Homo sapiens: one gene and its partners. The protein of the gene in region 1 interacts with the protein of each later gene in a pairwise test. Each region holds a gene or a part of one and is shown in the gene's direction. Other genes may lie near its edges.

Region 1 (8,882 bases):
ACCCTTTATTTAGTTCATGTGACTTAAGTAATCTTTGGGAAATAAATACAGTTTTAAAGATTATTGGTAAAATAAAAAATCTTCAAAAATGTAAACATTTTGTCCGGGTGCGGTGGCTCATGCTTGTAATCTCAGCACTTTGGGAGGCCAAGGCGGGCAGATCATTTGAGCTCAGGATTTCGAGACCAGCCTGGCCAACATGGTGAAACCCCATCTCTACTAAAAATACAAAAATTAGGTGTAGTGGTGCAAGCCTGTAGTCCCAGCTACTTGGGAGGCTGAGGGAGGAGAATTGCTTGAACCCGGGAGGCAGAGGCTGCAGTGAGCCGAGATTGAGCGACTGCACTCCAGCCTGGGTGATGGAGCGAGACTCTGACTAAAAAGAAACAAACAAACAAACAAAAAAAAATGTAAACATTTGGTCTAAATTATACAGGTCAGATATTAAGTTTGCTAAATTCTTTAAGGTCATAAGCTGCTTCTTTGACTATTAAAAATTGTTCAATTTTAGGCTGGGTGCAGTAGCTCACGCCTGTAATTCCAGCACTTTGGGAGGCTGAGGCAGGCAGATCACAAGGTCAGGAGTTCAAGACTAACCTGGCCAACATGGTGAAACCCCATCTCTACTAAAAATACCAAAAAATTAGCCAGGCATGGTGGTGCGCACCTGTAATTCCAGCTACTCAGGAGGCTGAGGCAGTAGAATCACTTGAACCCAGGAGGCAGAGGTTGCAGTGAGCCGAGATCATGCCATTGCACTCCAGCCTGGGCAACAGAGGGAGACTCTGTCTTAAAAAAACAAAAAAACCCAAAAAACAAAAAACAACAACAACAAAAAAAATTGTTCAGTTTATCTACTTTGGAGCATTAGATTAAATGTGTTATTGGTACATGTTCCAAAATTATGAGAAATTCCTATAATTCTAATATGACTTAGCGTATGTTATTAATAATTGTTACATAAAATTTTGTATGCAACAGAAGTAACCAAAATTTCCTAGTTAATTGTGGCTTTACTAGTGGCTGTCCTAAGACTTTTTTTTTTTTTTTTTTGAGACAGATTCTTGCTCTGTCACCCAGGCTGGAGTGCAGTGGCACGATCTCAGCTCACTGCAACCTCTGCCTCCTGGGTTCAAGCACTTCCTCTGCTTCAGCCTCCTGAGTAGCTGGGATTATGGGCACCTGCCCTATGCGGCTAATTTTTGGATTTTTGGTGGTGACGGGGTTTCACCATGTTGGCCAGGCTGGTCTCAAACTCCTGACCTCAAATGTTCCACCTGCCTCCGCCTCCCAAAGTGCTGGGATTACAGATGTGAACCACTGCACCTGGCCCTAAGACTTTTTATCATCCACAGACAATTGTTGTCTTGTTTTGATCTTCTTTAGAAGGTAGTTTATAATCAGCCATAGGACTTTAACAGGTGCACTTAAATGCAGGTTTCTGATAACTTTGGAGATTGTGACATTAGAATAGAGGAAACAACTTTCAGAACTCTCATGGGGAGCTGAAATGTTCATAGATATCAAACAAAAGTTAACTGCATAAACTAAAGAAGACTAAAGCAATCTTTTTGCCTTTGCTTAAAACATTGCTGATCCTTTGTTTTATTTTTTAGAGTCAAGGCAACTTTTCTTTTCAGATATTTACAGCTTTTAATAATCGAGTAAAGTATACTCCTGTGAACAAAATTTGGAGTATATGCATCTCTCTACTTGATTTCTCCAGAATTTGGAAATTATTTGTGTGTATTCTTAATTTATGGCAATGCAGTTATTTGCATAAGGGTAATAAGAATCTGTTTTCTTTTGCAACAGGACACAATTGGAGAAATTGTTTATTTTATGAAGGGTTTGACTGGAATGGTGTGCTTTCCATTAAGGAATCAAACTTGACTTGTAAAGCCTATAAAAGCCACTTAGCGACCTGGGCTCATAACCTTGCCTACACAGTCCCTGTACAGGGTTTCTGACCTGTGGTAAGTAAAGAATGTCACCTTCTAAAAGGTCCAGGAGCCCCAAGTTATCTGGGGACCTCAAAAGGAGAGGAAGAATTTACCCAACTCAAAGGTATTTGAGGGCACAAACCCATGGCAGGGCTCAGCTTTAAAAAGTCTTATCCAAGATTCTTTCTATGGAACAGAGTTCCATCAAAGCCAATTTTAAAAGCCTACGTGAAAAATAATTATTCTTGCTGCACTTTATACAATCATCAGGCCAAGTATAATAAAGCACATTGGTCTTACCATAAAAATGGTCTTTCATAAAAATGGGAAACTGGAGAGAGAAAAATTATGTTTCAAGAACTATGATACACTTGTTATTAAATTCCAGTCTCATCAGTTGTCTTTAAGTTTGTTTCTGCAATTTAGGCTAACCCTGCTTAGTCCTGTGAACCAACCAGTGGCCTCTGACTGCTGCTCAGAAGAAACAAGAGGGATGGGTAATGTAAAAATCTGCATCAATATTCTAATTCTGGGCATGTACTGGAATCATCTAGCAACCTCATATCAGCGTGGTTCCAACAGTTCCTCAGTTCATGGAAAGCCTTCTAGTTTAGTTTACTTGGGATAATTTTACTTATTTTGCTTTATGGTTGTGGAATGTATAGCTGTTGTAATCTTTGTATAGGAATGGAGGACAAGCTTACTGAATGTTTCCTTAAACTGAACACTTATGAATCTTCCAGAGTATCACCTTTTGTCAGAACTCATGAGTTATGAATGGCCCTCAAGATACCAATGCTTTTTCTTCCCTTCCCTTCCCTTCCCTTCTTTTCTTTTCTTTCAGATGGAGTTTCATTCTTTCAGGCTGGAGTGCAATGGCACAGTCTTGGCTCACTGCAACCTCCGCCTCCCAGGTTCAAGAGATTCTCCTGCCTCAGCCTCCTGAGTAGCTAGGGTTACAGGCACCCGCCACCACATCTGGCTATTTTTTTTGTATTTTTTAGTAGAGACAGTGTTGCACCATGTTGGCCAGGCTGGTCTGAACTCCTGACCTCAGGTGATCCGCCTGCCTCAGCCTCCCAAAGTGTTGGGATTACAGGCATGAGCCATCCCGCCTGGCCCATACCAACACTTTCCAACTGAGCTCCTCTCTACCACGAATATGAGAGATTCTAAGAGTTAGGCAAAAATATCATCGCCCCTATTCATCCTGAAGAACTTACAGAAGATGGACCTTCGTCCCTCTGCAACCCTTAGGATTAGTGCTTCTCTTATAAAAGGAAGGGGGGAAATGTCAGAGGCACGTGAACCAGAGCAAGTCTATTTTGAACAAGAGCTGAGTAAAATGAGAATGAGACTTACTGGGCTGCATTCCCAGATGGTTAAAGCATTCTAAGTTACAGAATGAGATAGGAGGTTGCCATAAGATACAGGTCATGGCCGGGCATGGTGGCTCATGCCATGACAGTTTATAAATGCCATGACAATGACAGGAAGTTACCCTATATGGTCTAAAAAGGGGAGGCATGAATAATCCACCTCTTGTTTAGCATATCATCAAGAAACAACCATAAACATGGGCAACCAGCAGCCCTCGGGGCTGCTCTGTCTATGGAGTAGCCATTGTTTTATTCCTTTACTTTCCTAATAAACTTGCTTTCACTTTACTCTATGGACTCGCCCTGAATTCTTTTTTTCTTTTTTTTGAGGCGGAGTCTCGTTCTGTCACCCAGGCTGGAGTGCAGTGGTGCGATCTCGGCTCACTGCAACCTCCACCTCCCGGGTTCATGCCATTCTCCTGCCTCAGCCTCCCAAGTAGCTGGGACTACAGGCGCCCACCACCATGCCCGGCTAATTTTTTTGTATTTTTAATGGAGACGGGGTTTCACCATGTTAGCCAGGATGGTCTCAATCTCCTGACTTTGTGATCCCGCCTTGGCCTCCCAAAGTGCTAGGATTACAGGCATGAGCCGCCGCACTCAGCCTGAATTATTTCTAGTGTGAGATCCAAGAACCCTCTCTTGGGATCTGGATTCAGACCCCTTTCCTGTAACAAGATTAGGCACCAGGAGAAACTGACACACATGGATGATATAACAGATGCCTAAATGGATCCTATGGGGGAACTGGAGCTGGAACAGCCCTTTAGAGTTGTCGCAAAGTGAGGCAAAGAGGCTAGACTTTTATATCCCTCCATCAATCAGTGTTTGACATGGGCCCCATAGGAGGGCATGTAACCTTCGGTGAGGCATCTTTCTGACTTGAAGGGCATTGCCCAATGAGGGAGGTAGCTATGTGGTATCAGCAGCTGGTATTTCCTACATGTAGCGAATGGGCATATTGGCTCCCAAGGGGGAATCTGGGTGGAGCACTATAGTATCCATTAAACCTAGTAAAGAAATATTATTTCTTTACTAGTCACACAGATGTGCCCAGGACAGTGGTAGAGCCCACAGGGTTACATAAATCATAATGGTAGCCCTCAAGAACTTCATAAACTGTATATGGTATTTTAAAAAGTTGCATATTGTCTGTTTCCACCTACTAGAACATAAGCTCTAGGAGGGCAGAGACTATGTTTTGTTCACCACTGTTTCTCCAGTGTCTAGACGTAGATTCTTTGAATGCATTTAATTGGAGCCTTGAGATATGAAGAAGTAGGATGCGGTTACTTCATGCAGAGCAAGAGTGGCATGCACCCAGAGAAGGCCAGGTGGAGCTCAGCATGAGTGTGAAGGCCTCATGTCAAGCCATGTCAGGGGACACAAAGATGGAGTATTCTCTAACCTATGTGACACTCGGCATAAGGGAAGTACAAGCACTCAATATGTGAGTTTCATTCCCACAGTCTGTGGTCTTTAGCCCAGTCTTTCCAGATGCCTATTGAGTTCTTCAAGCATCCAAATGGTTTGGGGTAAGGCTTCAGGTTCTAAATGAGAGGCTTTGTGGGTTACCAGCTGGAGAGTCAGAAAATCTGGATTTGAATTCACTCAGCCATGAAATAATTGTGTGATCTTGGGCCGGGCACGGTGGCTCACGCTTGTAATCCCAGCACTTTGGGAGGCCAAGGAAGGTGAATCACTAGAGGTCAGGAGTTTGAGACCAGCCTGGCCAACATGGTGAAACCCCGTCTTTTTTTTTTTTTTTTTTTTTGAGACAAAGTCTCGCTCTGTTGCCAGGCTGGAGTGCAGTGGCACAATCTCGGCTCACTGCAACCTCCGCCTCCCTGGTTCAAGTGATTCCCCTGCCTCAGCCTCCCGAGTAGCTGGGACTACAGGCGTGCACCACCACGCTAATTTTTTTGTATTTTAGTAGAGATGGAGTTTCACCATGTTGGCCAGGATAGTCTTGATCTCCTGACCTCGTGATCTGCCTGCCTCGGCCTCCCGAGAAACCAAGTCTTTACTAAAAAATATCAAAATTAGCCAGGTGTGATGGACCTGTAGTCCCATCTACTTGGGAGGCTGAGGCAGGAGAATTGCTTGAACCTGGGAGGTGGAGGTTGCAGTAAGCTGAGATGGTGCCACTGCACTCCAGCCTGGGGGACAGAGCAAGACTCTCTCTCAGAAAAAAAAAAAAAAAAAGTTTGATCTTGGGGAGTTCTAAGGCCCACTAGCCTCATCTGTAGAATGGAAGCAATAGTACTACTTTGCAGAGCTGACTTCAGGACCAAGAGATCTAATGTCTATGAAGCGGGGTACTTCCTTCTATTTGTCAGGATGGGGGAGGCTAGTCCTGTGATGACTGGGAATGAAGGGTAAAAGAGACAGAGGTTGGGTAAACTCCAGGCTCTGTGTTCATAGCCTGCTCCCAGACATTCTCTTGTTATCTCTCTGTTTCCTAGCCTACACACGTGCACAGACACGTAGCTGCTGTTCAGGAACTGAGCTAATGGTTTTAAAGTCTGTTCCTTATCTTTGCTGGAGGCAGGCAGTAGCTGTGCAGTGACAGTGTGCCTATGCAGACAGAGGGAGCAGTGAATAGCAATAGGGTGTTTCCACCATGGTCTTCACTCAGGCCCCGGCTGAAATCATGGGCCACCTCCGGATACGCAGCCTCCTGGCCCGGCAGTGCCTGGCAGAGTTTCTGGGTGTGTTTGTACTCATGGTAGGTAGGATCACTGCGGGAAGGAAAGAAGGGGGTTGGGCAAAAGTTCCTGGCTCCTTCTGTTGTCCTTATCTCTTTCTCTTGGTGTCCCCCTTCCTCTCAACTCCCTATCACTTTTCGTTTTTATCCTCTCGTCTCTCCTAATCTCCTTTCCTCTCCTACTTCATCATTTTTATTCTTGTCATTTTTATTCTTTCTTTAATAACAAGTGTATCATAGTTCTTGAAACATAATTTTTCTCTCTTCAGTTTCCCATTTTTATGAAAGACCATTTTCATGGTAAGACCAATGTGCTTTATTATACTTGGCCTGATGATTGTATAAAGTGCAGCAAGAATAATTATTTTTCACATAGGCTTTTAAAATTGGCTTTGATGGAACTCTTCCATAGAAAGAATCTTAGATAAGACTTTTTAAAGCTGAGCCCTGCCATGGGTTTGTACCCTCAAATGCCTATGAGTTGGGTAAATTCTTTTCTTTTTTCCCACATTCTTTCCCTTTCTTCTTCCTCCACTTTCCCCATTTCTTTTCCCTTCCCTCCTTCTGCTTTTCTCCTTCCCTTGCTTGTCTTCTGTGCTCATTCATCTCCTTGGCTGCTCCCCTGGCCTTCCCAACCTTTCTCCCTGTTGGTCTCCTGGGCTCCCTGTTCCTCATCTCTCCTCTTCTCAGCAGCTCCTCACCCAAGGAGCTGTGGCCCAGGCTGTCACCAGTGGAGAAACCAAAGGCAACTTCTTCACCATGTTTCTGGCTGGCTCTCTGGCCGTTACGATAGCCATCTACGTGGGTGGTAACGTCTCAGGTGAGGAGGGTGGGGTCTGGTCATCAGAGCACGTGGGATGTGCATGCCAGTTTGTCTGTCTGGTGATGGTGGAAACGCAAATCCTTCTGTGACTCGTGGACATTATCCCCTTGAACAGTGTCCCAGACTGAAATAAGCCTTTGGCCCCACCAGCCCCTCCTCTTTCTGTATCTCTCCATCCTGCTTCCTCACACTAATGCTTGGCTCACCTAGACAGAAATCAATGGCAGGGCACGAAGGGCAGCTGCTATCCTCTTGTATCCCCCACCTGAAGTCCTCTGGGGGCTCATCTCCACTCAGGACCTCTCCTGTTTGTACCCCAGATACACACTGCATCGGTGTGCTTGGGTGGAGCCTTGAGACATAGTGTGTTGCTGTGGAAAAAGCAGACAGACCTAGGTTCCAACTTTGGATTCACAGTGTCTTCTTCTTTTTTTTTTTTTTTTTTCTTTTTTTTTGAGATGGAGTTTCACTCTGTTGCCCAGGCTGGAGAGCAGTGGTGTGATGTCTGTTCACTGCAACCTCTGCCCCTGGGTTCACGCGATTCTCCTGCCTCAGCATCCCGAATAGCTGATTTTACAGGCACCTGCTACCACGCCTGGCTAATATTTGTGTTTTTAGTGGAAACGGGGTTTCACCATGTTGGCCAGGCTGGTCTGGAATTCCTGACCTCAAGTGATCCACTGCCTCGGCCTCCCAAAGTGCTGGGATTACAGGCGTGAGCCACTGTGCCTGGCCCACAGTGTGACTTTGCTAAGTCACTTAACATCTGTAACATCTGGAGCCTCAATTTCCTAAGCTGTGTGATGAGAATTACACTATCTGCCTTAAGAGCTATAGGAAGGAGCAGTAGTGTTGTCTGGTGACAATGCCTGGCAGTGACACTTAATAGATGCTCTTTTTCTTTCCTTGATACTTGAAGGGGCCCACCTGAATCCAGCCTTCTCCCTGGCCATGTGCATCGTTGGACGCCTCCCCTGGGTCAAGCTCCCCATTTACATCTTGGTGCAGTTGCTGTCTGCTTTCTGTGCTTCGGGAGCCACCTATGTTCTCTACCATGGTGACAGAGGGAACAGAGGGAGCTGTGCCTTGAGAGCACCTGTGGGTGGGCAGGGGTGCCTCAGAATGGTTTTGGATGAATGAGCAAAGAGGGAAATCCTGGGTGTTCCCTTCCTCCACAGATGCCCTACAGAACTATACAGGTGGGAACCTGACAGTGACTGGCCCCAAGGAGACAGCCTCCATTTTTGCCACCTATCCTGCCCCCTATCTGTCCCTGAACAATGGCTTCCTGGATCAGGTAAGTGTGAGGGGGAGACCTGGGGACACTACTTTGGTCCTGTTCCTCGGCACCCCAGCCTATTGTTCAGTCTCTGGGTGGAGTGTGGGTTGGGTCTATCTTGGCACTCCCCACCATCCCCAACTGCCTGTGTTGCACAAAGCCAGATGACATGGAATATTTGGATGAGAGAGGGCAGATGGAGCACCTGGCAGCTGACAGGGAACCCTCTGCCTCTGTTGACTCCAAGGTTCTGGGCACTGGGATGCTGATTGTGGGGCTCTTGGCCATCCTGGACAGACGGAACAAGGGAGTCCCTGCGGGTCTGGAGCCTGTGGTGGTGGGGATGCTGATCCTGGCCCTCGGGTTATCCATGGGTGCCAACTGCGGGATTCCACTCAACCCTGCCCGGGACCTGGGCCCACGTCTCTTCACCTACGTGGCTGGCTGGGGTCCTGAAGTCTTCAGGTGGGAGACAGACTCTCCTGGTGCTGGCCTCCACTCACCTTCCTCTGCTAAGGGCTCTGTCCCTGGGTCCACAGCACTCTGCCTTTAAAATAGCTCTCTTGGCTTCTTAGGACAGTGTTCTTTCTCCAAGTCATATTCTCCCCCTTTCTCCCTTGCTTCCCTCCCAACTTTTCACTGAAACAGTAAGATTTAGAGGTTGTGTTCTTAGGCATGCCACATTACTTCCATGCACATTAGTGACTTCATCAGCAAAATTAATATATTCAGATAATTCCCTAAGGCAAGA
Region 2 (8,929 bases), on another chromosome or scaffold:
TGACCTCGTGATCCGCCCGCCTCGGCCTCCCAAAGTGCTGGGATTACAGGCATGAGCCTCCACACCCGGCCTTAAAATTCTTTGTAAATGTTGTCTTACTTGTATTACATTCCAATGTATGTGCAGATGTTCATTTAATTTTTTTTCTCCACCCCCCGCCCGCCCCGCCCCGCAGAATGTAGTCTTGCTGTCTGGCCCAGGCTGGAGTGCAGTGGTGCAATCTCGGTTCCTGTTTCAAGCCATTCTCCCATCTCAGCCTCCCAAGTAGCTGGGACTACAGGCATGTGCCACCACACTCGGCTAATTTTTTTTTTTTTGAGACAGAGTTTCGCCCTCGTTGCCTAGGCTGGAGTGCAATGGCACTATCTAGGCTCACTGCAACCTCAGCCTCCAGAGTTCAAGCACTTCTCCCTCTGCCTCCCGAGTAGCTGGGATTATAGGCGCATGCCACCATGCCTGGCTAACTTTTTGTATTTTTTGTACAGACGGGGTTTCACCAGGCTGGCCAGGCTGGTCTCAAACTCCTGACCTCGTGATCTGCCCACCTCAGCCTCCCAAAGTGCTGGGATTACAGGCGTGAGCCACCACGCCCAGCCACACTCAGCTAATTTTGTATTTTTAGTAGAGATGGGGTTTCACCATGTTGGCTAGGTTGGTCTCGAACTCCTGACCTCAGGTGTTCCGCCCGCCTCAGCCTACCAAAGTACTGGGATTACAGGCGTGAGCCACCATGCCTGGCCTTCATTTATTATTTTTTAGTGACGTGGTTTTGCTGTGACACCCAGGCTAGAGTGCAGTGCACAATCATAGCTCACTGTAACTTCCCACCTCGGTCTCCCCAAGTAGCTGGGACTACAGGCACGTGCCATCTGCCTGGTAAAAATCATTATTAATGTTGTGGATTAAACATTTGGTTGGATATTGGTGGTTTGTACTGTTGGTTGGATATTTGTGGTATTTCTAGTTTTTCATTGTTGTAAGTTTGTGAACATCTTTGTGTATACATTTTTATTTATTTATTTATTTATTTTTTTGAGATGGAGTCTTGCTCTGTTGCCCAGGCTGGAGTGCAGTGGTGCCATCTCGGCCACCTAGGTTCAAGCGATTCTCCTACCTCACCCTCCCGAGTAGCTGGGATTACAGGTGTGTGCCACCATGCCCGGGTAATTTTTTTGTATTTTTAGTAGAGTGGGATTTCGCCATGTTGGCCAGGCTGGTCTCAAACTCCTGACCTCAAGTGATCTGCCCGCCTCAGCCTCCCAAAGTGCTGGGATTACAGGTGTGTGCCACCATGCCCGGGTAATTTTTTTGTATTTTTAGTAGAGTGGGATTTCGCCATGTTGGCCAGGCTGGTCTCAAACTCCTGACCTCAAATGATCTGCCCGCCTCAGCCTCCCAAAGTGCTGGGATTACAGGTGTGAGCCACCGTGCCTGGCCTTATTTTTTTTTCTTTTTTTTTTTGTAGAGATGGGGTTTCATCATGTTGGCCAGGCTGGTCTCAAACTCCTGAGGTCAGGCAATCCCCTCACCTTGGCTTCCCAAAGTCCTGGGACTACAGGCGTGAGCCACCACGCCTGGGCCCAACTATTTATTTATTTATTTATTTATTTATTTATTTATTGATATTGAGATGGAGTCTTGCTCTGTCGCCCAGGCCGGAGTGCAGTGGTGTGATCTTGGCTCCCAACTATTTATTTATTTATTTATTTATTTATTTATTTATTTATTTATATTGAAATGGAGTCTTGCTCTGTCGCCCAGGCTGGAGTGCAGTGGTGTGATCTTGGCTCACTGCAAGCTCCACTTCCCGGGTTCATGCCATTCTCCTGCCTCAGCCTCCCAAGTAGCTGGGACTACAGGCGCCCGCCACCGTACCCAGCTAATTTTTTTTGTGCTTTTAGTAGAGATGGGGTTTCACCTTGTTAGCCAGGATGGTTTCAATCTGCTGACCTGGTGATCCACCTGCCTCGGCCTCCCAAAGTGGTGGGATTACAGGTGTGAGCCACGGCGCCCAGCCCCTTATTTATTTTTTTGAGACGTAGTCTTGCTCTGTCACCCAGGCTGGAGTGCAGAGGCGCGATCTCGGCTCACTGCAGTCTCCCCTCCCAGGTTCAAGCGATTCTTCTGCCTCAGCCTCCCAAGAAGCTGCGATTACAGGTGCCCGCCACCATGCCCAGCTGATTTTTTTGTATTTGTAGTAGAGACGGGGTTTCACCATGTTGGCCAGGCTGGTTTTGAACTCCTGACCTCAAGTGATCCGTCTGCCTTGGCCTCCCCAAGTGCTGGGATTTCAGGTGTGAGCCACCATGCCCGGCTGGACAGTGGTCACTTTTAAATCTTGAATTAGCTGATATTAAATACAAATTGAGAGGAGAATCTTCTGTTTTGGTAAATCAGAGGGACTGCATGTAATCATTGCCTGCTGTTAAAATTTGAAGTGACACAAAACAGCTGGAAGGAAACAACCTTGAAATCTTTTAGTATCCTCCAAAAGTACTATATATTAAAAATATTGCTGGCTGGGCGTGGTGGCTTACGCCTGTAATCCCAGCACTTTGGGAGGCTGAGGTGGGTGGATCAGTTGAGGCCAGGAGTTCTAGATCAGTCTGGCCAACATGGTGAAACCCCATCTCTACTACAAAAATACACACACACAAAAAAAGTTAGCCAATTGAGTTGGCTCATGCCTGTAATGCCAGCTACTCAGGAGGCTGAGGTGGGAGAATCGCTGGAACCTGGGAGGCAGAGGTTGCAGTGAGCCAAGATCGCACCACTGTATTCCAGCCTGGGTGACAGAGTGAGACCCTGTCTGAAAAAAAAAAAAAAAAATGCTGGCTGGGCATGGTGGCAGATCTGTAATCCCAGTGCTTTGGGAGGTCAGCGTGGGTGCTTTGGGAGGCCAATGTGGGAGGATTGCTTTAGGCCAGGAGTTCAAGACCAGCCTGGGCAACATAGTAAGACCTTGTCTCTTTAAAAAAAAAAAAAACTAGCTGGGTGTGGTGGTGTATACCTGTAGTCCTGGCTACTTGGGAGGCTGAAGTGGGAGGATTGTTTGAGCCCAAGAGTTTGAGGCTGCAATGAGCTATGATCACATTACTGTACTCCAGCCTGAGCAGCAGAGCCAGACCCTGTCTCAAAAAAAAAATAAAAAAATAAAATAAAAAACCTGCCAATTCTGTTCTACTCAGGAAAGGGATAGAGAAAATCAACAGATGGAGTAGTTTAGCTTACTTTATTCCTTTATAGGACAGGAAGTATATCTAGTGTTTAAGACCATAGTCAGACCTGGGGGTGAATCTCAGATAGGCTATTTACTATTTGTGTGATTTTGGAGCAAATTACTTAATCTTTCTTAAACATCAGTTCCTCATTTATAAAATAGGGATTATGAGAGTGCTTACCTCATAGCATTGTTGGGAGCATTAAATGAGACAGCATACTGTCTCTTTTATTTATGTATTTATTTTTTATTTTTTTGAGACAGAGTTTTGCTCTTTTTGCCCAGGCTGGGGTGCAATGGCGTGATCTCGGCTCACCTCAACCTCCGCCTCCCAAGTTCAAGTGATTCTCCTGCCTCAGCCTCTCGAGTAGCTGGGATTACAGGCATGTGCCACCACGCCTGGCTAATGTTTTTGTATTTTAGTAGAGACGGGGGGGTTTCTCCATATTGGTCAGGCTGATCTCAAACTTCTGACCTCAGGTCATCCGCCCACCTCAGCCTCCCAAAGTGCTGGGATTACAGGCATGAGCCACCGCGCCTGGCAGCATACTGTCTTAATAGATACTTAATACAAAAAAAAAAATTAGCCGGGCACGGTGGCGGGCGCCTGTAGTCCCAGCTACAGGCTGAGGCAGGAGAATGGCGTGAACCCAGGGGGCGGAGCTTGCAGTGAACCAAGATAGCCCCACTGCAGTCCGGCCTGGGCAAAAGAGCGAGACTGTCTCAAAAAAAAAAAAAAATAGATACTTAATAGTAGTTTTTATTATTACTTTTCTGACTGAATGACTGTGTAATATTTAAATAATTAAACGACAGAAATAAGATTCTGCCTTAGTTCTTCCTTCTTCTCAGTTTTTTTTCTTATTTCTCAGTCTGGCTAATGTTTTAACCCAAAGTTTAGGAAAATGGTTAGTTTAATCTTTTTCATGAAATGAGTTATAGTTATTAGCTTGTTATGTTTAATTCTTGTTTCCTTTCTTTGCATAAAGCTGAAACTGATGTAAATGTGGTCATGCTTCAGGAATCCCAAGTTTGTGAAAAGCGTGCCAGCCAACAATTCTGTTACACAAATGTGCTTATCCCAAAATGGCATGATATATGGACACGGATACAGGTAATAACTTGGAATCCTCTGGCAGTGGCAGCTTCTGTAAATTTCTGTTGGTGATTAGTGAGTATTTTGACACTTTCTTCCCCTTCACATGCTTAAAAAAAATGTTGTTAACAATCTTGTTAGGGTTGAGATTATCCTGAGTTGTGTTTTCATCAATAAGCATTTATGCCTACTTTGTATTCCTCTCTGCTCCCTCAAGTAGATTACGGTATTCTAAGGTAAACTTCTTTCCTCCTCCCTCCTTTTCCCAAAGAAACTGCTTTGTTTTCTTGTCCTTCATTTTGCAGTATGTGTGTGTGCACGCACACATACCCCTCTTTCTTTTTTTATTTTTATTTTTTATTTTTTGAGGCAGAGTCTCCCTCTGTCGCCCAGGCTGGAGTGCAGTGGCACCATCTTGGCTCACTGCAATCTCTGCCTCCCGGGTTCAAGCGATTCTCCTGCCTCAGCCTCCCAAGTAGCTGGGATTACAGGCATACGCCACCACACCTGACCAATTTTTTTGTATTTTTTGTAGAGATGGGGTTTCATCATGTTGGCCAGGCTGGTCTGAAACTCCTGCCCTCAGGTGATCTGCCCACCTTGGCCTCCCAAGGTGTTGGGATTATAGGCATGAGCTATCGCACCCAGCCCCCTTCTTTCTTTTTAAAGGCCTTATGCCTTCTTTGGGCTGGAAACTGTTATGTGCCTGTGAGGATGTAAACTCTTTTGCCCCACTGTTCCTATTCTGATTCTATATGAGATATTTCATAAACCCCCGAGCTGAAGAATTACTTTGGTCTCATTTATTTCATAACACTGTTAAGTCACCTGGCAAACAGGAATGTCTGGCTGTAACAGTGATTGTACAAAATAGGTCCTTTCAGAAATGTCGTAGTTGTTATAAGCATAGTTACTGATAAGGACATTTGTTGTTCACATCAAAAACATAAGGGTGGACTTGTGGATTTGTTTTTTTTTTTTGAGACGGAGTCTCGCTCAGTCACCCAGGCTGGAGTGCAGTGGCACGACCTCGGCTCCCTGCAACCTCTGCCTCTTGAGTAGCTGGGGGCCATGCCCAGCCAACTTGTGGATTTTTAAAAAAAATTCTTTAAAAAAAATGTCTGACAAGCCGGGCGCAGTGGCTCATGCCTGTAATCTCAGCACTTTGGGAGGCTGAGGCGGGCAAATCACTTGAGGTCAGGAGTTCGAGACCAGCCTGGCCAATATGGTGAAACCCCGTCTCTACTAAAAATACAAAAATTAACTGGGCATGGTGGCGCACACCCTGTAGTCCCAGCTACTCAGGAGGCTGAGGCAGAAGAATCGCTTGAATCCAGGAGGTGGCGGTTGCAGTGAGCTGAAGTCATGTCACTGCACTCCAGCTTGGGCGACAGAGCGAGACTCCATCTCAAAAAAAAAAATTATCTGATAAAAAAGTGATACTCCATCTGGGGCACATTATAACCAACATTTACTCATAATCAGTGGCTTGTGACAATGGATTGAACTCAGCCTGTCATTACGGAAAACATTTTTAGTTTTCTGGGGCAGTTTATGCCTGGCAATTTTCTTAATATTATAGACCTTTGCTTTGTGTGATCTCTAATAAATAGCTGTATTGATAACTCTTTCAGTTTGGAAGTCTTTTTTCCCTCTATGTTCTGCCCTAATAGTAGATTCAGATCATGTTAACAAGAAGGTATTCTAACAGCTGTCTCTCTGTAACATGTGCAGTGTTATTTGCCCAATTATGTTTTAGCCACTGTATTTCTATATTTCTGATAAGCTTTGTGGAAAACTGGCACCATTACTGATTTGGTTGTTAGTCTGAGGGTTTTTTAAAAAATTGTATTTGTGAAAAATTAAAATTCCTACTTCCTTTTTTCTCATCCTGATTTTATTTGTGTTACAGATCCGAGTAAATAGTTCCAGATTGGTTCGAGTCACCCAGGTGGAGAATGAGGAGAAACTGAAGGAGCTAGAGCAGTTTAGTATCTGGAACTTTTTTTCCTCCTTTTTAAAAGAGAAATTGAATGACACCTATGTTAACGTGGGTCTATACAGCACAAAAACCTGCCTCAAAGTTGAGATTATAGAGAAGGACACCAAGTACAGTGTCATTGTGATCCGGAGTAAGTCTCACCTCTGTTTTTCTGATGGATTCTGTAGTGATAAGGACTGAGTTCTGAAGGGTATAATTAGTGAGACTGAGAAGTCAGCCTAAGACAGCTCCAGTTGGGTTCTGATTATAACCCTGAGTATACCACTGCTCTAAACAGTTCATGGAGACTTCACCCCTATCAGACAGGCCTAGAATTGAAACTCCACCTCAGGAAATTCTGAGTACCTCCTTACCTGGAACTGTGAAGACTTTTATTCTTTTATTCCCAATTACATTGTGCTGCTAATGTCCCTGAGCATATATGCCAAATACTCTTAGAGTAAATCAGATAGACGTGTTCTACCTTCTGGACACTTCTAGACAAAGGTAACTGTCTGATGTGTACATGCCTACATTTAAAGACGTGAATGGTTAATAAAAATTGAAGAAAGGTAAAATTGAAAATCATTCACAAGTAAAAAGAGTATTCATGGAACCATAAATAAAGATGAAGACCACTGCAGTTTAAAACTTATTCAGTGGAACTGGGAGAAGTTTTCTCTTTTCTGAAGATGACTGAGAAAGTTTCAGGGGAGATGGATCCTGTTGAATTCTCTCTGACTTTGTTTCCCCTTGGTTACTACACAGGGTCCTGGGATGTTGTAAGTAGTAGAAATGTTTCTAGGTTTAGTATGAAATAGGTTGTGCCCTTCCATTTGTCCTAGGGTTCTTTGGTTACGTAGGGTTGGCTTGTTTTTTGACGTTCCTTCTACAGTTACTGATTCCTTCTGCTCCTGTTCTGTTTGTGGGCCTCCCGTAGAACTCTTGAATGTGAAAGCTGTGGGAGTATCTGGTATGCCACTAAGGGGCCTTTGCTAGGGCCCCCTGGTCCTGAGTGAGAGGTATTTGCGTGTAGGCTTTTCCAGCACAGTGTTCTGTAGCAAAGGGAAGTAGGTGGTATTGTTGGGCAAGAAAAGCAGCCAGTTAGAGAACAACACAAGGCCCTGACCCACAGTTCTGGGCAAATCTGCTGAGTTCCATGACTGTGAGTGACTTAAAGCTTGAAAGCCAGAGTGATAGAGACCCCTTGTGGGTGATTGCATGAATTGCTGATGGTACTGTGTCTAGCTTTGTCCAAAACGAAGCTTGAGTTTCTTTTAACCTTAGCATAGGTAGCCTAAGTAAAAGTAAGATCTTCAGGCAAATACAGGTTAGACAGAGACCTAATTATACATTGGAAGGGTGCCCAGGCTTTAGGTGAAATTTAAATGCTTTTTAGGTGGGCTGTTTGCATTTATTTTTACTGTAGCTGACCAATAGTGCCAACGTTGTCTTTTATTCTATAATACCTTAAGCAGTTTTGTTCCCTTATTAAGCAAAAATCTTTATTTATTTCAGGATTTGATCCCAAACTCTTTCTTGTTTTCCTTCTTGGACTTATGCTATTTTTTTGTGGAGACTTGCTGAGCAGGTAGGTTCCAAGGCTAGTGTGCAGAATGAAACGGCTCATACCTATCCTGCCTGCGTTTTATAGTAACTATTAAGTACTGCCATTCCCATTTCCAGGACCTTTATGGCTTGGCCGTTGCCTGCTTGGATATTTAAAAAAATACTTTAATGTGTATTATGATTTTTGTTTTTTCTTATTTGAACAATGTTGACAATAGTGAAATTCCCACATTAGGTTGGCCCATCATTAGGTTGATAGGAGTTAGCCAATACAATGAAATGGAACATCATCACCCTTTCTATTGCTAGAAGTAATGTGTTAAGGTGTCATCTTTACAGGTCCATGGGTTGATGAGTTTCATTTTGTTCAGACGTAAAGAAACAAATAGCTTCTGGGTACGGTGGCTCACGCCTGTAATCACAGCACTTTGGGAGGCCAAGGCTGGCGGATCATGAGGTCAGGAGATCGAGACCATCCTGGCTAACACGGTGAAACCCCATCTCTACTGAAAATGCAAAAAAATTAGCCAGGCGTGGTGGCGGGCGCCTGTAGTCCCAGCTACTTGTGAGGCTGAGGCAGGAGAATGGCGTGAACCCAGGAGGTGGAGCTTGCAGTGAGCCGAGATCGTGCCACTGTGCTCCAGCCTGGGCAACAGAGCAAGACTCCATCTCAAAAAAAAGGAAACAAATATCACAGCTCAGCCTGGGCAACATGGCAAAACCCTGTCTATACAAAAATTAGCTGGACGTGGTGGTATGTGCCTGTGATCCCAGTTACTCGAGAGGCTAAGGCACGAGAACCGCTTGAGCCTGGAGGCGGAGGTTGCGGTGAGCCAAGATCACACCACTGTACTTCAACCTGGGCCACAGAGGGAGACCCTGTTTAAAAAAAAAAAAAAAAATCAAGTGTTTATTCATTTTTTCCTTTAGGAACCTACTAGTTAAGACAGGTGAGACTGACATGTACAAATATGAAGAAAATATATAGGTAACTAAATAAACATTGAATGAAGGTAAAATCAACATTAAGTTTGTATACAAGTAAAAAGTATTTGTGGAGTAG
Region 3 (8,929 bases), on another chromosome or scaffold:
CAGTTGCCCCATGTATTCCCTATCAAATGTAGCATCCAGTAGACAACATCCACAGAGATCAATTTGCAATTATACTGAGCTGGTTCAGCCTTTAGGTTGTTTCATCATGAAACACAGAGAGAACACTTTGAAGCATGTGTTCAGGTAAAACAGGAGGGAGAGCACTGGACAGGGAGTCGGAAAAATCAGATTCAAATCCCAGATCTGCTACTTATGAACTATGTGACCTTGGACAGGTCACTGAATCACCACTTCCTCATCTGGAAAATGGGGACAGCAATAACTACTTTGTCTACTTTCAGGGTTGTGAGAATCAAGTAACAATAATGTCAAAGTCCTTTGAAAATGGGCAAGATCTATAACAACTGTAAATCATGATAATACCTACTATTAGACAATAATGTGTATACAGGCGAACTCTTCCTCTTTCCAGGGTGGTTGGGTTTTCTTTGCGTGCTTGGGTCAGAATCATTTGACCAATTATGTGTGACCAGATGAGAGGTGAATGTTGGAGGAACTCAATTCCTGCCCTGGGTAACATCAGGAATCCTATCTAATGTCAGCCGAGCTGACTGGATAGGTTGTGCATTAAAAACAGAGAGGGAGTAAAGAAGGATGTTGAATATTACTTCCTCAGGGGATGAAATCCCTGAGGAAAGGCAGGAACAAATAAAGTGACCACAGGGACAATTGCCTGTTATGGAGGCTGGGTGGTTTCCTCCAGAGGAAGAGTGCCACAGATAAGGGCACGATTGAGGATGCACATTGGGTCCCAGGTCCTAAGGGTGGACGATACTTGGGCCAGGTACATATGATGGAGCAGCCACTGAGTTTTCATTTATTCAATAACAGAGTATCTAAAGTACTTTGAATTATAGATCATCTCTAACAAGGTACTGGACTGCCACTACTTCTGATGTGGAGTGCACTGCTGTTCAACAATTGCAGTAAACACATTGTATCATGGAATCCGGGATTGGAAGGAACTTTAGAAGTTGTCTGAGCCAACCTTCAATGCGGGATTCATTTTTACAACAACCAATTAAATGTTCGTACAGCCTCTGCTTAATCACCTCCAGGAACAGGGAACTTACTACTTCAACCATATAGAATCCCTTAGGATTGGAAGCAAGGAGGAACACTGATTCAGTAGTGTCTGCACAAAAGATTTATGGGGAAAATGATAGCTCATTAATTTTTGCCTTGATTTGGAAGGGGAATGTTCCAAGTGAGTCTTTGGGATAATGATGGAACCAGAAAGGAGCAAAAGAGCAGTAGCTGATTATTCTCTGCTCTGAAACACAATGCCATTATTGAACAGCAAAACATTGTCTGCAAGCCTGTTGTCGTCTGAGAACAGTGGCTGTTACCCTGGTAACCAGACTGTGATGCCTCCATCCAAAAGTGGCTGTTTGCCAAGCAGTGTAGTTTTGGCTGGCTTGCAGTAAGTGGGTGTAGCCCAGGCAAAAAGTGTGGCGGCAGAGCGGGGGTCCAGTTTTATAAAATGCCCGAAGACTAACTGAGTCCCATCAAAATGGCAAGAATGCCCCAAGAATACCAGGAGCCAAAAATAAACCAGATCCCAGCCAGCATGTTCACCTAGTCTTCCTGGAGACACTGACTAAAATAATCAAGTGCAGCCTTCTCTACCTCACTTCTCCCTTTGGCCGTGCAGAGCCAGAGGAGTTCTTGGAAAGCCAGGCAGTTTGAAAGGTCTACCCTGCTTTAGGGGGCCTTGGGCTTGGCTCTGAGCTAGGAAAGCCAGAAGTTTACTTAACAGGCTGACAACTGGAACTGCTCTCTCAGAGCGATCTGAGTAATAACAACCTCAACCCTGGGAGGTGGGTGGGAGGGGAAATATAGTCTCCAAACCCATTAAGGTAGAACTCCAGCCAGTAACATCACTTTCCCCCATTGCTTTTGTCTATCGTCCTGAAGCCTTGAAAGCCATCCCCTGGGTACAGGTCTTTGTCTTGAAAGAAAGCAACAGTAGAAATGCCTTCCCTGCCCACAGCACTTCAGGTCTAAAGAAGACCAAGTGAGGACAGTGACATGATCAGGAAGGGTCACAGCAGCCATGGTAGGTGAATGGAGCAGCTTTTCCTTCCTTTCCTGCTTTCAGAGCCTACTCAGTGCCAAACTTACATCAAAAGCTCAGCAAGTACTGATTGATTAATCCCTCTTGCCTACGGCAAAATGGCCCTGAGGGCTATCTCTCAGCTCTGCACTGGCCTCTGAGCTGTCTGCCAGGCAGGGCTCTAGAAAAGAGTCCCAAGGAAGAGAATAAGGTTCCCCAAATCAGCTTCACACTGCAACAAGGAGAGAGGAGGAAATGGTGGGAGACTGACCTGAGGAACAAGGTATGGCTACTATTGTCTCTAGTACCAGTTACTTCCCTTTCATCTTCCCATTCGTGGGCAAGGTGGAGACAATGTGCCAAGGATAAGTTTTAACAATCAAAGTCCTACCTCAGCTTCCCAATGCTTGCACATAAATTGGAATGTGTACATCATTCATTCTGTCTCTCTCTGTGTGTGTGTGTGTGTGTGTGTGTGTGTGCGCGTCTGAAGAGGAGTGGGGAGTATAGGAAACAAGATAGTCCAGATGCTGTTGCCGTGGTAATACTAAATCGTGTCCAAAGAGGAGGCTGAGATTCCTTTTTAGTTAACCTTGTCCACATGATTTGACTATCCAGCAGGCTTGGATTCCCAGGCCCCAGAGACTTCGGGACTGTTTTCCAGCACTTGAATGTGGTATATAAGTGCTGATATCAAAAGGGATATGTAGGAAAGACAAGATTATAGGCAGGGCATTGTCTGACCAGGACGAGGCCCGAAGCAAAAGTCTTTGTTTGTCTCTGGCACCTCTTGATAATTGTTGTTTTACTCCTAGAACCCACCCACTGATCCCCATCCATCCCTAGTACCAGTCACGGCTGCTCTAGCATTTCGGCCTTGTCAACTACTGCAGGCCCTGATCAAGGAGGCCTCTGTTCATGGGGTAAGGTTAAGGGGTGGGTTCTGGGAGGAGGGTAAGACTGTAGTGCAGATTCGAGACCTAGGGAGGTGGGGCCAGTTTCTCACTCAATGAGCCTGCCTGTTGTTTAGCTCTATTGTATAGGGTTCTTCTATCTCTCCCTTTGTCAGCTGGATTCAAGGGACAGGCTGGGAATTGTGCAGGGTACAATTGGTCTCTTTCTACCATTCCTTTCGATGAAAGCCCTTCCTCTCCTTCCTTTGATGAGTTCCCAGATTCACACTGAATTTCCATCATGGAGCTGGTCCTTGAGGCGGGCCCAGGGCATGGGAAAGGAGGGAGGGAGGGTTGGGAGCTCTTGGTGCCTGCTTAAAGAGACAGCATCAGGATCAACACAGTCCCTTGATGAACCTGGATCTGTGTAAGTCACATTGGTTCTGTTGATCTCTGTCAGACCGCTGTGAAGAGCGCTGGTGAGAAGGGCTTAAAGTTGGAGTATCAACTATCACAGATTGATTAGACTTGTTTTGGGAGTTTGTATACAAATGTAGCCAACCATGACATGATCTTTTCCCTTTGCTTACATTTTGCCCACACAACTTCGTTATATCCATTTTAACACTTGCTTATAGGTAGCTTTAGATTTTGATTCACAGACATATGTTTGTTCACCCCAACAGGATTTCAAGTTTTCTAAAGAAAGGGACTGGCCTTTTAATTCCCTTCTGTTTCTCCTAATGTCTATGTCACTGCTAGTGTGCTTAATTCTTGTACTGAATTCACATAAACAGAAATGAAAGAAAAACACTGGAGGGGGTCATTATTTTTCTCTATGACCTTTCATCAAAGTCAGGTGGCTTAATCTGACTGAGTTGCATTGAGAAATGTTATTACTATATGGTTCTTTTATGCCAACTCTCTCATCTCGCAGTCTGTACTTAGACTGGAAATGTGAGAATGTCTCTTGAGAGAGCCAAGGAACTTCTCCCCTAGAATCTCTTCCAGCCTTCTTGAATCAAACTCACACCCTTTCAACCAGGAGGGGTTCTGAAATGGAGAGCTTTTGGCTTTAGGCTATTGTTCACACATACCCAAGGGACATTTCTTGGACTGTGAAAAATCAAAGGGAGCCCAATGGATCTTTTCTCAGAATGCTTTGATTGTCAACTACTTTGATGAAAAAATAATTTCTTGCAGGCTCTGAGTTTTTCTCAGTTAGAATCTAAAATCTGATTCTTGCTTGGACAGACTGACTGAGATTCTTCACTTCTGCTGAACTTAAATGCCCCCAAAGCAAACATTTCATCTAGGTTGTGAAGAGATGAACATCTGATGCTTATGCTGATATTACTGAATTGTTTATAGCTTAATAGTGATAGATTTATCTAAAGTCATTTATTTCAGACTTTACATTAGAAACTCATTAAAGCCTACTTCTTTCTTGTCCCTTGCTTTGAGCTGTAGTGGAGCAGAAAAGGGGATGCTAAGTTATTCAAGTTCTAAGAAAATAGAGGAAAAATGGATGTAAAAAGAAAGGCTATGATCTGGTGACTCAGAATTGCTCCTAAGGCTTAGCCATTTATCACCCAGTAAGAACACAATCCATGACACTCTCAGGTTATTTGGATGATGATTGAGGGATCAGATACACTCAAGAGGATGTTTCCCTCTCATCTTTGCAACCCTAGAGGTGGCATCACCTAACGCTTAAAGTGGAGTTCTCTTTTGGCTAGCAAGAGTTCAAGTTCCTCCATCCCTGACCATACCTGCACAAGCACTTAGCCCTTCCCAGATGAAAATGCTGGGATGAGTGAGTAGGCCCAAGATGGTCACTTGCTAGGGTGGATGGCTCTTCTTACCCTCGGCTAAACAAACAGTCCTGCCATTGTTCCCTGAGTCTGACCCCCTCCCCACCCCCCGGCTGCAGGCCCCTGTGGAATACCAATCAGGCTCCTGAGATCTCAGGAAAGAACAAGGCTTCTTTGTCCGGGGGAGCTATGGAGGGCTCTGTCCAAGCCCTGACCCTGTGCTGGGGAGAAAGGGAACAGTGGGGTCACTGACCTTCTTCTCCCCCCATCCCCAGGCTTCAGAGACTTTCTTTACTAGAAAAGTCTAAGAGTTTGGGGGTGGGGAGGAGTTGGATAGGCAGAGAAGGAAAATGGCAGTACTGTTTACTTCTAAGCTCCTTTTCTTGACTTATAGGCTGAATCTAGTATCTTAACCTGTTGAGAAAGAGGAAGATCAATTTCTGGAATGTTTTCTGAGAACAACAATCGATTTCAGTTGTTGTGTTTTTCTCTGTGGTATACATGTGTGTATGTGCACATTTGTACACATGCATGCATGTGCGTGTGCACACACACAGACACACCCATGGGCCAGCTCTGAAAAGACACTCTTCCCAAGCACGTTTGCAAAGTTCATGCTGAGTAAACTCAGCCTCCACTCACAGCAGCACAGCTACAGATTGCTTCTTATAGAGGCCAAGTTTCCTGGCAGCAATGCTTTAGTTCTTGGAAAAGGAAGTTCTGCTCCAAATGTTAGCTGCTTACTTTGTTTGGCTTGGGCTTCTGAGGCTCATCTTTGGTGTGACACTCTTTGAAGGCCAAGAAAGGGCTGTCATTTCAGGGGATGGTGGGTAATAGGACTCACTCCTTTTGTGTCTCTGAGAACAGAGGCAAATGCCTCTACCTCGATTTTCCCATGACAGAGATAATTTGATCTTTCCAAATCTGTTCACACTGATGCAATTCAGCCATGTAAATCACTAGGTATTCATGCTCTCTGGGCTAAAAACAAACTGTAACTAATGTTAACAGAATCAGGAAAAGGAGTCCCCTTTCCCTGGTACCCTATAGAAAAGTGAGTGTGGCTTGGAGAAATGCTTGAATACAAAAATCCAAGCCTAAGTAATTAATACAATTTATTTTTATTGTACAAGCTGTCACAACCTGCTTATTCAAAAATAGCAGCTTCCCAGTACATTTGCTGAGTATTTGTGTGTGTGCATGTGTATACTGTGTTTATAGATATATAAAATCAGTGGGTATATATACATATATTTATATATATACATACATATGAATTAAGACATTTTTTCTGAAGAGCTTAACATTCTCATTTCTTCTACATTTTAGGGATCTGGCCGAGAGGCCAGAGGAAGCCATTCTTTTCCTCATCTAGTCAGTCATCTACTTGGCATTTGCTAAGGTTCACTCCATATGACATCTTAGAGCATGGGACTAGTACTTGGAACACAGCTGCTTTCAGAGCCTGTGACTTCTTGTGTGCCTCTCCTGTTTCTCAGCAACACTGGCATAGGGCCTGGGATACCAGGTCTGGGGATCTCAGGGACTCTTAGCACTTTAAGACACATGTGTTCCCAGGCCCTGGTGTGTTCCTCTAGTGCCAGAAAGATGTTTCATGCTTTGCTGACTTTGTATAAAGTCTGTTTGTAGCTGTTTTGACAGAATCTCAGCGTATAACTGAGGGTGGGGACATTAGCCAAGCTGCATTATAGGAGGACAAAACTGCCATACAAAGTGTCCAAAATCATTAAGCCTGCATTTTTATTATTGGGAGTAATATCAAACCTCCTATTTTCCAATTTTCATTTCTTGTCCTGTGCTAGCTCCATCCTGTTTGGACTGCTCCTCCCATATGTAAACTAAGAAGAATCAAGCATTCTTTGCAACAAATACACACGATGCTCAAAAATGTCCAGGAGCATCCAATTTCCAAAGTTTCCTCCACCTGGAATGCTCTTCATGCTAAAATCCTGTCTGACAATACCAGCATCTCTGGCCTGCACTCATCCCTTCCTGGAACTCCAAGTGCATTTACCCTCTGTTACCACTTACTTGGCTGCCTGAATTGTTAGTTGAAAATATTAGGTCTACTTAGCTAATTCTTCCTCAGGAAATTAAAGACTCCCATATGGCAGAGTCTGTGTCTTTTCTCTCTTCATATCCCGTATAACACCCAGCATAATGCTGGGCATATAGTGAGTATTCCATAAATAGTTGATGAATGACTAAAATAAGCAAGCAAACAAACAGACTAGAACAATAAGAAAGAAGGGACTGATTTCATAATCTCTCTGGCTTGCTATTTGAATTGCTGAATTATTATTATTTATTAAATATTTTTTAAATTCTGGCAATAAAAGGTAAGGATTTATTTTCTTTCTTTCTTTTTTTTTTTCTTGAGACAGAGTCTCGCTCTTACTGCCCAGGCTGGAGTACAATGGCGCAATCTTGGCTCACGGCAACCTCCGCCTCCTCCTGGGTTTAACAGATTCTCCTGTCTCAGCCTCCTGAGTAGCTGGGATTACAGGCATACGCCCATGCCCGGCTAATTTTTGTATTTTTAGTAGAGACGGGGTTTTGCCATGTTGGCCAGGCTGGTCTTGAACTCCTGACCTCATGTGATCCACCTGCCTCAGCCTCCCAAAGTGCTGGGATTACAGGCATGAGCCACCGTGCCCGGCCAAAGATTTATTTTCAAGAATGAAACAAAGTAAGGATTCTGGGTCAATCTCACATGCTGAAAGCCAAAACCTCTAGCCGCTCCTGCTTTTTGACTTCGGAGTGCCCACTATCTCCGAGCCTGTGAGCACAGGGCCTGGCAGAGGGGTTTGAGTGGCATGAGCTACCTACTGGATGTGCCTGACTGTTTCCCCTTCTTCTTCCCCAGGCTTGTTAGAGTGCTGTGCAAGATGTCTGGTAGGGGCCCCCTTTGCTTCCCTGGTGGCCACTGGATTGTGTTTCTTTGGGGTGGCACTGTTCTGTGGCTGTGGACATGAAGCCCTCACTGGCACAGAAAAGCTAATTGAGACCTATTTCTCCAAAAACTACCAAGACTATGAGTATCTCATCAATGTGTAAGTACCTGCCCTCCCACACAGACCCATCTTTTTTTTCCCTCTCTCCATCCTGGAGATAGAGAACTCTTCAGTACCTTAGTAACTAGCAGGGGACTGGGGTGGAGCCAGACCGGATTCCCGAGTCTTCCCTCTGTGCAGATCTCTCCTGCTCCACATTCGAAGCCCATTCAGAAAGGAGGGGTCTGCCTGCCTGCCTGTCAGCCCCTCCCACCCCCGCCCCCTTGTTTTCTTACACGTGTTCTGACTTCTGCTAGGTGTGGTTCATATTGCCCAAGTTGGAGCCTCCAGCGTAGTAGGTATGGAGAAGCCAAGGGAGGCACTAAGCCTCTCCTGTTCCTAGAACAAGTTAGGCTCCTGTTCCTTCACCCACCTTTCTTCTTGTCTAGCTCCCTACTCCTGTGAGTTAGCATGTCTGAAGGGTGGGGCAGGGAGAGTAGGTCCCTGGTTCTCCAGGTCCCAGGGTAAGCAAGGTGTGGCGGGAGGGGCATATGTTTCTGGTCACATACACCCTGTCTTCACTTATTTCAACAAAGATAAGGTGAAAGCATGCAGGAGGAACCTGGTGATTCCTCTAGAAAATCCCTAGCCTTGTTAAGGTGCTCGCTCTGGTGTATACCTCACTTATGTCGGGAAAGAAGCCAGGTCTTCAATTAATAAGATTCCCTGGTCTCGTTTGTCTACCTGTTAATGCAGGATCCATGCCTTCCAGTATGTCATCTATGGAACTGCCTCTTTCTTCTTCCTTTATGGGGCCCTCCTGCTGGCTGAGGGCTTCTACACCACCGGCGCAGTCAGGCAGATCTTTGGCGACTACAAGACCACCATCTGCGGCAAGGGCCTGAGCGCAACGGTAACAGGGGGCCAGAAGGGGAGGGGTTCCAGAGGCCAACATCAAGCTCATTCTTTGGAGCGGGTGTGTCATTGTTTGGGAAAATGGCTAGGACATCCCGACAAGGTGATCATCCTCAGGATTTTGTGGCAATAACAAGGGGTGGGGGAAAATTGGGCGCGAGTCTGTGGCCTCGTCCCCACCCAAGGCTGGGTCCTCTCTAGGGGCCTGGCATTTGA
Region 4 (5,600 bases), about 45 Mb from region 1:
CTGCTATCAGAGAAGAAGGGTGTTTGGGGTGTGTTTTACAAAGGTGAGGCCATGTCTGGACAGGGAGAAGAGACTGCCATCTCTGGACAGTGTGGAGCTACAAAGTAGGGAGTACAGTGAGCTGGGATTATATTTGGTTTCATTTTTAGAAAAAAATCCCTCCGATTGGGTCTGAGAGTCTGGAAAATTAATCATTCTCCAAAGTTGAGGGAAGAGGTAAAAGTTAAAATTTGCTGGGTGTGATGGCTCATGCCTATAATCTCAGCACTTTGGGGGGCCAAGGCAGGAGGATTGCTTGTGTCCAGGAGTTGTAGATCAGCCCGGGCAACACAGTGAGACCCCATTTCTACAAAATATACAAAAATTAGCCAGGTATGGTGGCACGTGCCTGTAGTCCCAGTTACTCAGGAGACTGAGGTGGGAGGATTGCTTGAGCCTAGGAGGTTGAGGCTGCAGTGAGCCATGGTGGAGCCACTGCACTCCAGCCCAGGTGACAGGGTGAGACCCTGTCTCAAAAAAAAAAAAAATTATTTAAAAACATAATTGTCTATTTTAGCATCCAGATGATTTTTGTATTCTCCATGGAGTAAAAGTATACACATCAAATCATTTTAGGCTGGGGTGGAATTCCTCCCTTCAGTGGGAAAAAAATTTTTCTACGGAAAATTTTTCTTGATTTTCTGTAAATGGTACATTGGAGTCTGTTTTAAGGTTTGAGTTAATTAACTCAGATGCTTTTTTGTACTTTTTATTTGAGGCACATTCATTTGGAATCCTATCTACCTAAATTTTTTTTTGAAAAAGGACAAAATATAAACAAACAGTATATTCACCTAGACCCTAAAGCATAAGGATAGCATTTAGAAACATCTCAGAGGCCGGATGCGGTGGCTCATGCCTGTAATCCCAACACTTTGGGAGGCCGAGGAGGGCAGATCACCCAAGGTCAGGAGTTCGAGACCAGCCTGGCCAACATGGTGAAACCCTGTCTCTACTAAAAATACAAAAATTAGCCAGGGAGCCGGGCACGGTGGCTCACGCCTGTAATTCCAGCACTTTAGGAGGCCAAGGTGGGTGGATCACCTGAGGTCAAGAGTTCAAGACCAGCCTGGCCAAGATGGTGAAACCCCATCTCTACTAAAAATACAAAAATTAGCTGGGCATGGTGGCAGGCGCCTGTAATCTCAGCTACTCAAGAGGCTGAGGCAGGAGAATTGCTTGAACCCGGGTGGCAGAGGTTGCAGTGAGCCGAGATCGCGCCACTGCACTCCAGCCTGGCCGACAGAGTGAGACTGCCTCCAAAAATAAAATAAAAACATCCCAGGCCCTTGAGAGCGTTGATATGTCTGTCTGTGACTAGAGACTTCAAAATATCACCTTGAAAGTGAGGACTTCGGTGAAGGGCAGGGTGTGATTTCTTCTCTCTTTTGCCTGCTAGCCGCTGTGATTGGAACCAGGCTGCATGCTGCTGTGGCAATTGCTTGTGTTGTAATGGCCTTTTACGTCCTGTTTATAAAATGAATTCCAAAGCACCCAAGTCATCAACTGCCAACCAAGGGGACGGGGATGAAGAACCTGTTGGAGACCTGAACCCAGTGTAGGAGAGTTCAGCTGAAATCATCGGTCCCCAGGATGACACCACAGCATCTGCCCCTGCTATATGTGGGGAAAACTCATGGTCACGAACATTATTTATGCTTCAGGGGACTACAGAAAGCCAGCTTCCTTTGATCTATGTGTAAATCAGTCCTTGGCAGAGTGCATATAATGTCCGGATAAATTACACCCCTCGGTGATAAGATTACATACCTCCTTCATAAAAACCTGTCATCCTGTTTTGTTCTTCAGCTCCTCATCAGGATCTTTTCAAACTGAGGCTCATTAGGGAAGGAACTAGGCTGTGTTCAGACTTCTTTTGAAGAGAGAGAATTTTCAAGACTTCTTTTCACTCTTTGATTTGGATCTGGCAAATTGGGGAGGGGATGCTGGGTGGGAAACAGTTATGAAATGCCAAGAAATTCTTTGGCTTTAGAAATTTATCTTTCATGTACCCATCCGGGAACATAAAAGAGAGGCATAGTGCTCATTGCAAAAAGAGAACAGATGAAGTAGCTGTGTTATGTGCTGGTATCTTGAGAGTTTTGCCAAGAAAATCTGGGCCTACATAAAATTTGAGAATTATCTGTGTGATGAGACCAGAAAGCAGTGGCTTAGACAAGAAAAAATCTTTCTGTTCACCAGTATCCTCAAATGGAGACTTCACTTGATCAGATGGTATATGAAAAATGAATCAACTATTGCTATTTCGTAAAACCTTTTTATATTTTCTAAATTTACTTAGTGCTAAATACTGTTACTCAGTTTTAAATGCCACGACTAGGGGAAAAAGAAACTATTGAAGAAATAATTGTTTAGTATATTTGCAGTTGGGGTAGAAGAAAGAAATCTAGTATATTGATTCATATACTAGTAAATTCATCTAGTATAAGAACTTGTGATGTTAGATTGAAGTTTTGTCATCTTATAAAAGACAACAAACTTATTTTCTGTTTAAGTCTGAGTGTTATGGCAATTTTTAGTTGATTACTTATTTTTCTTAGCCAAATTTTAATTTTCTTCATATTGCATTGCTCTTTAGTTGTCTCTGGAAATTCTATTTACTTTAAGGACATGAGAAATTCAAATGAGAGAAGTTGCTGATATTCATCAGTGTGTTTGGACAGTTCATAGGGTCCACAAATCAAATGAGGTTGTTTCCTGAAGTAGAAGAAAACAGAACTTTGCAATTGATACTGAAGTACTTTGCCATGGAGTTAGTAACTCCTGAGCAGACCATTTTAGATGGCTCAGCATTTGGCAGGAAGACTTCTCCATTCCCTGCTTATATCTATGGAAGGATCAGCTGTTGGATGTCTAGAACTTCTCTATTTAAAAAAAAAGAGTAGGTCTAAAATTAAATTATTATAAGCAAGCATAGACATGGGTCTTCCAGTTGAATTGTCCATTACCGTAAAACTTAATGGTGGACAAGTTAGCTGTGGTTGATTCCTGTGTGGCAGTAAATTGTCTTCTGTCTGCTTACTCCAAATAATAAAAGCTGCTAGGAAGTTTAGATTTTGAAATAGGCAGTTTAATGCTTTGAGGGTTTCTAGAAATACAGAAAGTCATCAAGTAAACACTGCATGTCTAATCATCTCAGAGTTGTGGCTGTTATCTCTTCAGGAATTGGTCCACAGGGTAAATTTCAACAATTCATACGTTTTCCATTGTCATTTCTGAGGACCTTTGAGATGAGAGAAAGGAAATCTAGTGGAACAGGAAAGAGAGTTACACCTTGTGGGTGTGAGTTTGGGACCTGTTGGCAGAAGGGAATGTCACTCCCTGGAAACAGGTTCAGCATGTTTGCACTTGTTATTTTGTAGCTTTAATGATTTTTGTTTTCTAATAGGGCAAATGTCTCTAAGCTTGGTGTTTAGAGCTGCTTCATATTTTAAACTAGTTCCATTCCACAGTTCTAGTTCAAACCAGTTTTTACAGCCTCCTGGGTGGGTCGTCTTGACCCAAACTCTTGTGTTGTTACATTTTGAGAGGTTTTCATACCAGAATGTACCAAAAAGTGCACAAGGTAAAGGTAATTTACAGCCAGAAACAAATATACATTTGTTTCATTTCTTGACTTTCCCTAAGCAGATAAGCAGAAACTTGTTTAACTCATTACTTTGTTTGATGTGTCTTACATATTTTTGACTAAAAGTTATAGAATGTTATTCCTCTGGGGGAATCTTTTACAGGTGGAGGAATGGGGATAGCAGTATTGCCTCAGATTCAAACTGGCATCACCATAAACCCTGTAGGCCAGGGTGGAATGAAGTCAGCTCCTTTTTATAGTTGAAATACAATTTTTTATTCACCATTGTCTGCACAAATCCTTGAAAATAAACCTTTTTTTCCCTACAGTCTTTGTCAATTTATTTGTCACATGCTGAATTTATTGAAGTTTGTTCAGTCCTCCCCTGGGTTCAGTTCATAGCCTACCTTTTTAGTTCACATTAGTAAATACCATCATTCCTGTTATCCCATTGTGAGAGCATTGAATGTATTATATAGTTAAGAATCTATGATGGCCTAGTTTTCTCCTTTAGGGCAGCTGAGACAGATATATCTAGAGATATCTATAACTAGATATATATATGTATATATGATATGCTGAGATATATATAACTAAATATAAATGCATGTAGTAAGTTTTCATATATATACGAATAAGATATTCATATATATGTGAATGAATAAGTATTGAGGTATATGAATGAAATAAGGTAGATAGCACCCCCAATACATTCCATCTGCTATTGCTATTAAAATACAAGTATCATCTGCTCTAAACAGTCATAAACATCTTCATTCAAATGAAGTTAACAAGTTAACCAGCCAGACACCTAGAAAATCCTTGAGCCAGACTTTGGGAGGCTGAAGCGGGTGGATCACTTGACGTTAGGTGTTCGAGACCAGTCTGCCCAACATGGTGAAACTCTGTCTCTACTAAAAATACGAAAAAAGAATGTGTCACTGCACTCCAGGCTAGGTGACAGAGCGAGACTCCGTCTCAAAAAAAAAATAAAAAATAAAAAAAATCCTTGAGCCAGCGGGATTCTGGCACATACAATGGGTACTTTCCCCCTTATTTGTTTATTTCAAGTGCCTGGTGAGACTGGCACAAGTACAAATTAGAACTTAAATCATTTTGTACTACTCTCCAAAATTCTTCTGATTTCTACCCCCCAACACCCATTTCATTGAAAAAGGAAAAAGAAGGAATTGAGCCATTAAAATTATGCTTTCTAATGTGAGAGGAGCTAATTCTGCTTATATAACCACTGCTATTTTACACTCTACTCATTCTGGAACTTGGAAGTCAACGTATGTTTTAATAGATATGACCATAAATGAAGGCTCAAAAATTTGGGTGCCACAGCATTAAGTTGTGGGCAGACTTAGGGCTCTCTAAGTGGGGACAGGAATATGCCTTCCTATCTGTACCCATTTCATAGATATCCTGACTTCCTAATATTTGGATTTAAATACAGTATTCTTGGCTGTGTGCAGTGGCTTAAGTCTATAATCCCAGCACTTTGGGAAACCAAGGCAAGAGGATCGCTTGAGCCCAGGAGTTTAAGACCAGACTGGGCAACGTAGTGAGACCTCTGTCTACAAAAATGTGTTTTAAAAAGTAGCCAGGTGTGGGCCTGATGCGGTGGCTCATGCCTGTAATCCCAGCACTTGGGAGGCTGAGGCTGATGGACCACAAGGTCAGGAGATCAAGACCATCCTGGCTAACACGGTGAAACCTCGTCTCTACTAAAAATACAAAAAATTAGCTGGGCATGGTGGCACGCACCTGTAATCCCAGCTACTCAGGAGGCTGAGACAGGAGAATCGCTTGAACCTGGGAAGCGGAGGTTGCAGTGAGTCCAGATGGCACCACTGCACTCCAGCCTGGGTCACAGAGCGAGACTCCTCAAAAAAAAAAAAGAAAAAAAGTAGCCAGGTGTTACCTGTGGTCCCAGCAACTTGGGAGGCTTAGGTGGGAGGATCAATTG

The links.
Region 2: the proteins of AQP10 (region 1) and NEMP1 interact in binary tests that used the Homo sapiens proteins (3 or more experiments, as listed by UniProt).
Region 3: the proteins of AQP10 (region 1) and PLP1 interact in binary tests that used the Homo sapiens proteins (3 or more experiments, as listed by UniProt).
Region 4: the proteins of AQP10 (region 1) and TMEM167B interact in binary tests that used the Homo sapiens proteins (3 or more experiments, as listed by UniProt).

Annotation. Positions count from the first base shown.
Region 1 is NC_000001.11:154,315,211-154,324,092, forward strand, and holds the start of AQP10 (aquaporin-10), read left to right. Parts: upstream 1-5,882; 5' UTR 5,883-5,945; coding exon 5,946-6,050; intron 6,051-6,719; coding exon of another isoform or gene 6,720-6,722; coding exon 6,723-6,849; intron 6,850-7,771; coding exon 7,772-7,909; intron 7,910-8,030; coding exon 8,031-8,149; intron 8,150-8,378; coding exon 8,379-8,596; intron 8,597-8,882. UniProt on the Homo sapiens protein: Aquaglyceroporins form homotetrameric transmembrane channels, with each monomer independently mediating glycerol and water transport across the plasma membrane along their osmotic gradient. Could also be permeable to urea.
Region 2 is NC_000012.12:57,068,193-57,077,121, reverse strand, and holds part of NEMP1 (nuclear envelope integral membrane protein 1 isoform a precursor), read left to right. Parts: intron 1-4,209; coding exon 4,210-4,334; intron 4,335-6,228; coding exon 6,229-6,448; intron 6,449-7,815; coding exon 7,816-7,888; intron 7,889-8,929. UniProt on the Homo sapiens protein: Together with EMD, contributes to nuclear envelope stiffness in germ cells. Required for female fertility. Essential for normal erythropoiesis. Required for efficient nuclear envelope opening and enucleation during the late stages of erythroblast maturation.
Region 3 is NC_000023.11:103,777,911-103,786,839, forward strand, and holds part of PLP1 (myelin proteolipid protein), read left to right. Parts: intron 1-7,671; coding exon 7,672-7,858; intron 7,859-8,554; coding exon 8,555-8,816; intron 8,817-8,929.
Region 4 is NC_000001.11:109,092,979-109,098,578, forward strand, and holds the end of TMEM167B (protein kish-B isoform 1 precursor), read left to right. Parts: coding exon 1-43; coding exon of another isoform or gene 44-104; intron 105-1,438; coding exon 1,439-1,521; coding exon of another isoform or gene 1,522-1,601; 3' UTR 1,602-3,956; downstream 3,957-5,600. UniProt on the Homo sapiens protein: Involved in the early part of the secretory pathway.